Linked DNA regions of Homo sapiens. The protein of the gene in region 2 purifies or fractionates together with the protein of the main gene of each other region. This does not show direct contact. Each region holds a gene or a part of one and is shown on either strand. Other genes may lie near its edges.

Region 1 (7,293 bases), about 190 Mb from region 2:
TTTTTTTTCCAGAACAAACTCCTCCAGAAGAAGCCCCATGCCTCTAGATTCCAAAGCCATCTAGTGCCCCCATCATTCTTTCTTCCTGGGGCCAGTCCTTAGCTGTCAATGTCAGCGGTGCTAAGTCCACACAAAACACAGCAACACCTGGAGCCCAGGGCTTCATCATGGCAGCTGGGCTCAGATCTTTGTCAATCTCCTTTGGCAAACCTCCAAAGGACTAGGGTTTGGGGGCAGCAGATTTACCCTCCTAATGATGTTTGGCCCTTGCTGGGGTCTAAGGGAATCTGACTTCCAGGGCTTGGGGTTACACAGGTGTTGGAGATATTGCACACAGAGCAGAAAAGCATCTTGCCCTTTGGAAGCAGGCTGAGCAGCCCAGTGACAAGGCTCTCCTCTGTGGCCCTGCTGTTGCTTCCAGTGGAGGGAGCAGGAGATAAAATCCCTCCTTACGGCAACTGTGCTGAGAACCCAGGTGCTGTGATGTCAGCCCGTTCCCTGGCGATCTGGAGCCTGCTGGGCCTCACTATCTCCTGAGCCACTGTCCTGCCATGGTGGGAACATCTCAGCCTTCTGTTTATCTGCCCTCCACAACTTTTTTTCTTTCTGTTTGTCTGTGCTGTGTGTCCAGAAGTCCAGAGAGGGCAGCAAGATGACTGCCAATGGCTTTTCTGGGAGGCAGTGGGAAGATAGCAGTGGCAGAAGGAGCCTCATCTCAGGGGGGACACTAAGCCCTGGGGGCACCAGTATGGATTCCTCTGGGCTGTGGGGCAGGGCTCGGGGTCACAGGACAGGCCTCAGCACCACCAATGAAGCACAGCCAGCAGATGCTCGCTGGGAGCTTCCTCTGTGCCAGGCCCTCTTCGTGTTTTGCTTATTAACTAATCAAGCCTTTCAGACAACCCTTGAGGTTGATATGATTATGACCCTTTCCATTAGAGTGAAGAGTGAACCGGGAAACAGAGAGATTAGGGAAGCAGCTGCATCTACTCCACTTCTAAGTGAGGGAGAGTGGATTTGCATGGGCACGCTGTCCCCAGAGCCCACTCCTGTAGCCACCACTGAGCCCTGCATCCAGATGCCTCTTCTACCACCCCTGAGTCTGTGCTCCTGTCTTGTCACTGGGCCAGGCCTCAAAGGCACCCAGAAAATGTAGGGGGCTGGGCCTAGGGGTCAGGGTGCCACCAGGGGATGCACTCACCTTGTCGTCACAGCGGCTGGCCGCTACACAGTTCTGGACATAGGCCATGAGGGAATCAATGAGCCCTGAGTAGTTACGCATGGTCTGGCGGCCTGCATCGGCCGAGCTCAGGTTCCTGGGGGAGAGAAGAGGGTGGAAGAGGGCAGAGAAAGGGGGAAGAGAGAACGGGGAAGGTGGGGACAAGAGAGTGTGGTGGGGGACAGGCAGGAGAGAGAACAGGCAGGAGAGGGGAGGGCAGAGAGGAGACGACGGGGTGGAGATTGGAAGTTGTGGTAGAAGGAAGGAAGGAGAAGAGGAAAGGGAGGAAAGGAATGAAGAGAGGAAAAGATGAAAACGGAAGGAAAGAGAAACCATTTAGCCAATTCCGCCTGGCCCTGGCTGAGGCTGAAATGAGGTCTCATTTGCACTCAGTTCTTCTCCTCCTTCACTCTGCCCAGTAACTTTATAACTGGCAATGGCTCCATGTGGCAACGGTCCCTCCGCAGCTGCATCCCAAGGCTCACACCCTGCTACTAGTGGCCCTTTGCGGAACAAGAGCCAGAAGCTCCCGCATGCCCAGTCTCTTTCTGTGGGACAGGAAGAAGCCCTGTTGATGCTGGATCAGAAGTGGATCTGGGGGTGGCCGGGCTGGGCACCAGAAGCTCCCTCTCCACCCAAGCTGTGTTCTGCCCCCAGCAGTAGGCTCACTCCCAAGCAATGTGGGCTCATCCCCAAGCAATGTGGGCTCATCAGCCTGGTGCAGGTGGGGTGTGGCTGCTGTTGCTACCAGTAGCACATCAACCCCATAAAACTCTTAATTATCCTCACTTTTCATCTCCCCAGCCTCTCTGCTTCCTGGAGGCTGCTACCGGAGGCTGGCAGGGAGAAACACAAGTTGAGACACAGAGGCACATGCCAGCTGCACCCACCACTCTGGGGGGATTCTCAGGAGTTGGGAAAGACAAATCCCATTAAAGCAAGACAAACCCCATTAAAGACCCTAAAAGGGATCCTGCTCCAGGGTTCCAAGCCCTGTACCAGCCGCCCCTCCACACCCACCCATTTCGCCAGCTTGTAAACCACTGCTTCTAGAACAAGCCCTCCCACCAGCCCCACAGGGGCTTTGCCACACCCTGGTATGGAACTTAGGCAACTTTGGGTGAAGCAGTGCCATCTTCATGCCAATGAACATGGCAAATGGTTTTAACACCACAGCTGGGAAGTGACTCATTAGCAACCCATCGGTAGACTTTTGTCTAAAAGAACACTCTTCAAGATGATAGCACAAGAAATGCATTTTTTTTCATGGGGTGGAGGAGGGAAATGGTTGAACCAGTTTGGATATTCAGATCTAGGCATTTTCAAGCTCAGATTTCTGACTAATGTCCGCTGCATTCTCTCAAAGGGGGTGGTAGGGTCCTGGGCCTTATCCAGTTCCAGGGAAGTTAGGAAGGCCTGAGTCCCTGTGTCTTGGAGCCTGCCCATAAGAGGGAGTGCCGGGTTGTCTGTTATGTTCTATGCACCGGCTGAATGTTGGCTGAGATGGGGCTGCCTGGGGAAGGGCCCAAGGCTGGGACAAAAAGACCCCATGTATCCTCTTCTCTCACCTCAAGCAGCCTGTGGCATTGAAGAAGACCTCAGGGTCCACCACTTCCCGGGACATGTTGCTATTGCCATCGCACCAGCCAGAGAAGGGAATGATGACGCGGTCGGCCAGAACAGGCAGGGCGTCGGCAATGAGTTCCTCCTTCAGCTCGTCAGTGGAAGACAGGTTCCAGAGCAGCCCTGGGGGTCAGAGACCATCAACCCAATTTGTGCCAGGCTCAGGATGCCCTAGGGACCGAGGTAACAGCCCCAGCCTGGACTCTGGCAAATGGGCCCTACTGAAATGTCGCTTTCCAGGTAGCCCTGGTCTGTAGAACCTATTGTCTGTCTGTGTCATGAGGCTATTTCTCAATGCCCCAACCAGACTGAAGGTTCTTTGCAGGCAGGGAACATCTCAGAGTTCTCTGTCAAGGCCAAAATTATGCATGTGGAAAGTGATCAAAAAACGTTTGATTGATCAGTGGTTTTTAGTATAAATTTTAGCACTTGGAGTCTTCTAACGCTGTCTCTTTTCCATCTGAAAGTTATGCCAGAAATACTTATCAGTCATTACTCTGTACATGGTCTGATCTTCCCAGCCCAATTCTAGGTCTTCACGGTGACCTCTTCCTCTTGTGCCCCCCACCTTGAGTGCCTACCATATTTCTTGAACACAGGGTAGGTGCTTAAGGCCTGTTAACCCCTTCTCCCCTCAGTCTTACTCTCTTTCCATCACCTGGGAATCCCAGGGCTTGTGGAATATGGATCTTGCCTGGACATCAGCCTTCCTCCTTTTGCTCTTTAACCTCAAAAAGATGGTGACCCCTTGTGTGTGCACACCACCCAAGGTCACCCTCTGGACACCCCTAATTGGGCCAAGGCCAGTGTCACTAAACTCTCAGGATATTAGCCCTGGGCCAAATCTGCACAGCTGTGTCTTGGCCCAGCCTGGAGAGACAGGCTTGCACCCCAGCCTGGGGCCATAGCCAGTGGCCTTGCACAGCCCTCAGGCTGGCTCTCGGTGGCCGTGTTGTCCTACCAGTCAGCTGCTTCTGGATCTCGGCGTTCCCGGTTCTCCTCAGGAGGCTGACTGCCTCGCGGATCCCATTCTGCCTCCGGGTCTCCAGCTTGTTGGTGGTGCTCCTGAACACCAGGTTGCGCAGGGCCCCTGCCGCGGCCTGCTGGACGTTCTGGTTGGGGCTGCGGAGGAGGTCCACCAGCTTGCAGATGCCTCCCAGCTGATAGACCTGCCAGGAAAGAGTTGCCACGCTGCCTGGTCAAGGGAGATGAGGCTGATCTAGTTATTCTCTACTCAAAGGTGATTTTTTTTTTCAGACCAAAAAATCTATCAGTTCAGAAATATTCAAGTCAACCAAAATAAATAAGCAGTGTGAGGTCATGATAACTGACCCAGACCCGGAGGCAAAAGACCTGGATTCAGATCCTAGCTCCCATATCCTAGCTCCCATATCCTAGCTGGGAGAACCTCAGCTAGGGTCCCTCCTCTTTCCTGAGTCCTGCTTTCTTCCTCTGGAGAATGATGGTGAGGACCTGATAAGAGAGTGGATGTAAATACATTTCAAAACCCTAAAGCAGAACACAGACATAGAAATGCATACAAACTTATCCGGGACTCTGGGAAACTCATTTTTGACACTACATCCTTGGGCTGAACTGAAGAACCCTGTAGTGTCCTTCCTGCCAGCAAAGCTTTGGAGGCATCAACAGGCCTGTTTTCTACCGTAAGATGCCTGGAGAGAGAAGGGGAGTGGGAGAGAGGAAGCAGGTAGGAGGGCAGGAGTTGAGAGGTGAGGAGCAGTCATGTTCTTTAGTGGGATTTGAGAAAAGGGGTTTCTGTTGAACCCGTGGCTGGCATTGAAGTCTCTTCCATGACCAATGGAGGAATTGTACCTGCCTAATGTCCACTTAAACAGAGGGCTTTGCTCTGCAGAAAGTTAAGATGCCCAGCTCTAACCTTGGGCAATGCGAAGGCTCCTGGCAGCTGGGCAAGGCAAGAGAAGCCAACTGCAGATGCCCTCACCCATCTCTAAAAGCGGAGTCAGGCTGACACACCCAGGCCCTCCGCAGGCCCACCAAGGAGGAAGGTATGCAACCAGCTACCTGTTGCTTGGCAGATTCATCCTGGAAGCAGGTATGCTGGATGTAATAGGCCCCAATGGCCTGGTACTTCTCATCCTGGGAGCTCAGGTACTGCACAGCCTTGGGGATGGTCAGCCCACTGCACTCGATGTCCTCACTGCAGATCCTGTGAAGAATAGGCAGTGGGGGTGGTTACGGGGTGGGCTGGGAGCCCTGCTGAGGGGGCTCAGAATTCCTCCCAGCACACTAAGCTGCCACAGCCTCATCTGCCCTCTGGAGAGCCAGAACAAGGCAGCCCAGGCCCACTTGGAGAATACCCCTGGGAACAGCTCCTCTCCTCCAGAGGAGGGAAGGCTACACCCACTGGATTTGCCCCATGTGAGAATAGTGAGCCCCTGGTCACAGTTAATGTCCTAGCAGGTATGTTATCTCTCCACTGAGGAAAAACTCCTCCCTATTCCCTGAGGGGAAGCTTCCCACCTACCTTGCCATCTCTCTTGTTTGTGTCTGGTATTAGGAAAATGGAAGACAATGGCCATGATCCTATCCATCCATCCATCCATCCATCCGTCCGTCCATCCGTCCGTCCGTCCGTCCATCCGTCCATCCATCTGTCCATCCATCCGTCCGTCTGTCCGTCCATCTGTCCATCCATGCATCCATCCATCCATTTATCCATCCATCTATCCATCCCCAAGTCCAGCTGGCTCTTACACAAAAATGTTCACATCTAGCCTTTCTTCCCATTCTTATAGCCACCAATTTCCTGATCTTGATCACTTTAAAGGCAGCAAGGGACTTCCATATTTGGCTTTCTTCCTCAAGTTCCCCCATCTAAAATTTCATACCCTTTTTACTAGATAAGTGGTTCTAAAACCCAGTTCACTGTGTTGTTCTCTAGCTCAGAAACCATCAGCGGCTTCTCCATACTTCAGGTTCAAGTTTAAACAGCTTAGCCTGATGTCCAAGGGCAGGTATTAGGTTGAATCATAGGAAATGTCTGTAGTCAACCTTTTTTCAGCCATAAAACCAGAAATTTCATATGTTTTAACCTAATAACCCGGCTCCACTATGAACATTCCCCAGCCCCTATCCAGGGTCTGCTCCAGCAAGACTGTCCCCTTCACTGTACCCTGGCCAGGTCTCAGGCATGCCTCAAGGCACACCACTGGCCCTGCTGATGCCCCACATCTGTGAAGCCTTCCTAGGGAAGGGAAACCTCTCTTCTAAGAACCTCTCCAGCTCCCCTGGTGTAGAGTCACAGGGTGGTGACTGGCTGTGTCCAGCATTCAAAGAGGGAGCCCTATCCTTATGCTTTGACATACTTGGTGGTCAATAAATACCCATGGTTTTAGCTATAGCAGCCCAACTTCATTTCTAGGAAAACCACCCGAGGTGCAGAGTTCTCTGGCACTGGGTAAGTAGTACTGCTGCCTGCATTGAGAGAATGTCACCCTGCATTCATCAGTAAAATGTCACCCCAAAATGGCTTGACACTCATCCCTTCCATATCTCACCTAGAACCTCCACTCAGGGCCTCTGGTTGGGACAATGAGCTGAAGCCAGAGGCTGCCCTGATCAGCCTCCAAGACAGAGAGGTTTCTTAGTTCTTCTCCAGATCATCCTAAATACGCCTTACGGCCATCAGGTAGTTCGGAAACGTCTAGCTCTATAACGGGGTTCTGCTTATTTTCAGAACAGTGTGGTACCAGTAGGGAAGAGCACAGGATGGAGAGCCAGCTGTGTGGCCTTGGACAAACTACTTAACATCTCTGTGCCTTGTTTTCTCCTCAGGAATACTCATGCCTGCCTGGTGGCGGGTGTGAGGATTAAAGATGAAGAATGCAAAGCTCCTGAGGCTCTCAGAAAAGGAGTTAATTGTGTAGCTCCAGAACAGCTCTGGGTTGTCCCTATCATGGCTGTGTCTCCCGCACTTGTCAAAGAGCCTGGCATGTAGTAGATGGTCGGCAAACATTTGCCAAATAAATAAATAACAAGAGCAGTAGGTGGTGATGAAGGACAGTTCAAAGGTTCAGGGAGCCCCCAGCCCTGAAGGGCAGGCTCAGTGTCACTCACGACACCTCTGCGTCTATGGCTCCTAACGGGGCACCCCATTTGGTCTCCTTTGTTTCCTCTGGGTGATGGCCTTCCACATGTATGCACAGGAGTTGTGCTCTGTTCTGTAGCAGTAGATCATGAAGCCCCATGAAGTCCCTCAGGGTTTTTGTTGTTGTTGTTGTTGTTTGTTTGTTTGTTTGAGACAGGGTCTCACTCTGTTGCCCAGGCTGGAGTGCAGTGACACTATCTCAGCTCACTGCAACCTCCCCCTCCCGGGCTTAAGTGATTCTCTTGCCTCAGCCTTCTGAGTAGCTGGGACTACAGGCACCCGCCACCATGCTTGGCTAATTTTTGTATTTTTCTGTAGAGAC
Region 2 (3,285 bases):
GCCAACATAGTGAGACCCCCATCTCTACTAACAATACAAAAATTAGCCAGGCATGGTGGTTGGCATCTGTAATCCCAGCTACTTGGGAGGCTGTGGCAGGAGAATCGCTTGAACCCAGGAGGTGTAGGTTGCAGTGAGCTGAGAGTGCACCACTGTACTCCAACCTGTGCCACAGAGCAAGACTCTGGAAAAAAAAAAAAAAAAAAAAAAAAGGGCCCTGCAGCGCGACGGGCTTAACTCCTGGACTCACAGGTGGACTCCATGTCCCAGCCTCCCCCACAGCGCCACATGACCACATGACTGCTGGGTGCTGGCCTCTGGAATGTGGGCAGAATGAGGTGCCACCCTGGGCCTGGTCCACAGAAAGCGGGGGGACACCTCCTGCCTGCACTCACTCCCTGGCTGCTGACTGGGTGCTGACACCCTAGGGCAACTGGGCAGGGTAGGGTCTCTGGGGCTGGGTCTCTGCAGGAGCGCCTGGAGCAGAGCCCCACGCCCACTGTCACCTCCTCCCGAGCTGAGGCCTACGTGAGAACGAACACGTCTCTGGAGTTCAGCACTGGGATTTCGGGGTTTATCTGTTACAACAGATGGTGTCACCTCAACCAATACAGGTTCTTGATTGAAGTAACTTGAGAGGCACCCCCTCTCCCAGTCATCCTCCATCGGTGCTGCCAAAGGGGGAAAGGCCACGGGAGATGTTCGAGCTCAGGGCCTTGGTCCCCACCTCCCTGCCATGAATTCTGCAAGGAAAGCGCTGCTCGCGGGTGGGCCTTCTCTGGCCACATCCTCCCTGATCAGGCCATGCTGGCCAGTCCTCCAGATAGGATCCATGTTCCTGCCCCAGCCTCCAGCCCTATGTCGAGACCTGAGGGTTGGGGGTGGGATCACAGGCAACCACTCGTGACTCATTCAGGAGCACTCTCTGGGGGGTTGGGAAGCAGGCCAGCCGCCACCTGGTCCTGGTGCCACAGCTGCTCAGCAAGGCCATTGAGTATGTGGGCAACGTCGGCCAGCCCAGCCCGCCCGTCCAGTGTGCGCCCATCAGCCAGCCGCCGCCCCGGCACACTCTTCACCCGTAGCAGGGGCAGCTCCCAGGCCTGCCGGAAGGCTGTGAGGTCCCGCTCGGGCACGTCCGTGTGCATGTACTGGTCAAATCTGGAGGAGGGTCAAGGAGCCTAACTGGGTGCCTCTGCACAGCCCCCCATCAGACCCTGCCTCTCCCTCCTCCCTGGAGCCCACACCCAGGAGCTGGGGTAGCCATGCTGTACCCTTTAAGTAAAAGCCCAGGTGCTGAATTCCATGCCTGGGCAGAGGCTGGGCCCCTGACCCCCTGGCTCCGTGACTTGCCAAGGATATCCAAAGGATACTTGGAGCCGATGACCATCCTGACGACACCAGGGGCCTCACCTGCTATGCGGGCCAGCTGTCCAGGGAGGTCTTCAAAGGAGGCACGGTCAGTGAAGGAGAAGAGGAAGAGGAAGGCATCTGTGTTCTCCATGCAAGCCTGGTGATGGAGAGGCATATAACCATGTCACCCCCCATCAGCTGCAGGGCCCTCAGAAGAATCAGGAATAATCCCTCCTTTCACAGATTGGGAAACTGAGGCCCAGAGCAAGGAGCGGCTGGTCCTAGGACAAGCATGGGCTGGGACTGTCTCCAGTGCCAGCTCAGGTCTCTGAGCAGTGCCTTGAGCTCATTAATACCCAATCGGCCCCTGGCAGAACCCACCCAGGCCCACATGCCTGCTCACCAGCAGCATATGATCGAACTTTTTGAGTGCAGACTCTCCACAGTCCCAGAACTCAAAACGAAACATGACGACACGGCTGCTGGCCTGCAGCTTGGCTGGCCAAAATACCACGGTGGTCTGGATGCCTGAGGGGGAGCCAGGGTCAGCCACTCACCATGGGAGAGGTGGAGATGGGAGGAATAGGGGACCAGGAAGGAATAGGAAGAAGAGATACATCCCTGCCCTGATGGGTCCCTAGTTTGATGAGGGAGGCACAGTCCTTGACCCGGGATAATTCTCAGTCTGATGGGAGAAACAGAAACTGGCCCTGGAGGAGACTCTGGTACACCAGGAAGATGCAGCCCTAGCTATGGCAAAGCAAGTTTCGTTTGTATGTCCAGGGAGACCCAAAGGGCCCAGGACGCTGGGAGATGTTTCAACATGGTGGAACAATCAGCATCCAGTGGTGAGAAACAACAAAGCAAGATTAGCATTTCCTGAGCATTTACCTTGAGCGTAGCTTGATGCTAGGCATGTTACCACCACCACCACCTCTAGTGGCAACCACACAACAACCCTGTGGTACTATTATCCCCTTGGGACCAAGGAGCCCATGTAGGCTCAGAGACGTGAAGTGACTTTCCAAGGCTACAGAGTAAGAGGTGGTCCAGGGCCAGGTTCTTGCCTCCACCCCCAAGGAGGGCCTCCCAGGATGGGCAAAGGATAGAGGTCCCACTCACCGGTGGTCTCGTGGTGCACCACAGGCACCTCCAGGCCAGCCAGCTTGGCCACCAGCGCCGTCTTGCCCACACCACTCTTCCCGGACACAAAGATCTTGTAGCTGGCAGTGTCAATGGACACAGGCGGCAGCAGCACTGGCCGCTCAAGCAGCCCTAGGGCAAAGAGAGAGCCAGGCAGGGTCAAGGGGTGCTGTGGTTTGAAGGTGTCCCCCAGAGTTCATGTGTTGGAAACTTAATCGCCAATGCACCAGTGTTAGGAAGTGGGGCCTAACACAAGGTGATCAGCTGCCCTCATAAATGGATTAATGTTGTTATTGAGGGAGTGGGTTTGTTATAAAAGCCAGTTTGGGCGCCTCTTGCTGTCTTGCTGTTGCCCTTCTGCCTTCTGCCACGGGATGACACAGCATGAAGGCCCTTTCCAGATGCTGCTGCCATGTTCTTAGACTTCCCAGCCTCCAGAACCATGAGCCAAATAAGCTTCTGTTCATTATAAATTACACAGAGGAGGCCTGGTGCGGTGGCTTACACCTGTAATCCCAGCACTTTGGGAGGCCAAGGCGGGCAGATCACCTGAGGTCAGGAGTTCGAGACCAGCCTGGCCAACATGGTGAAACTCCATCTCTACAAAAAAAAATACCAAAAATCAGCTGGGTGTGGTGGTGGGTGCCTATAATCCCAGCTTCTTGGGAGGCTGAGGCAGGAGAACTGCTTGAACCTGGGAGGTGGAAGTTGCTAAGCCGAGATCACACCACTGCACTCCAGCCTGGGCGACAGAGCGAGACTTTGTCTCAAAAAATAAATAAATAAATAACT

What was found.
Region 1: the proteins of CPLANE2 (region 2) and PKP1 purify together in Homo sapiens (affinity purification with mass spectrometry; 2 studies listed by BioGRID and IntAct, with this or other methods). This does not show direct contact.

Annotation. Positions count from the first base shown.
Region 1 is NC_000001.11:201,314,290-201,321,582, reverse strand, and holds part of PKP1 (plakophilin-1), read right to left. Parts: intron 5,031-7,293; coding exon 4,886-5,030; intron 4,012-4,885; coding exon 3,804-4,011; intron 2,966-3,803; coding exon 2,788-2,965; intron 1,768-2,787; coding exon of another isoform or gene 1,705-1,767; intron 1,317-1,704; coding exon 1,202-1,316; intron 1-1,201. UniProt on the Homo sapiens protein: A component of desmosome cell-cell junctions which are required for positive regulation of cellular adhesion.
Region 2 is NC_000001.11:16,231,140-16,234,424, forward strand, and holds the end of CPLANE2 (ciliogenesis and planar polarity effector 2), read right to left. Parts: intron 2,626-3,285; coding exon 2,473-2,625; intron 1,879-2,472; coding exon 1,754-1,878; intron 1,508-1,753; coding exon 1,371-1,507; coding exon of another isoform or gene 1,360-1,370; intron 1,159-1,359; coding exon 909-1,158; 3' UTR 553-908; downstream 1-552. UniProt on the Homo sapiens protein: Required for efficient primary cilia initiation, regulating a late step in cilia initiation. Plays a role in the final maturation of the mother centriole and ciliary vesicle that allows extension of the ciliary axoneme.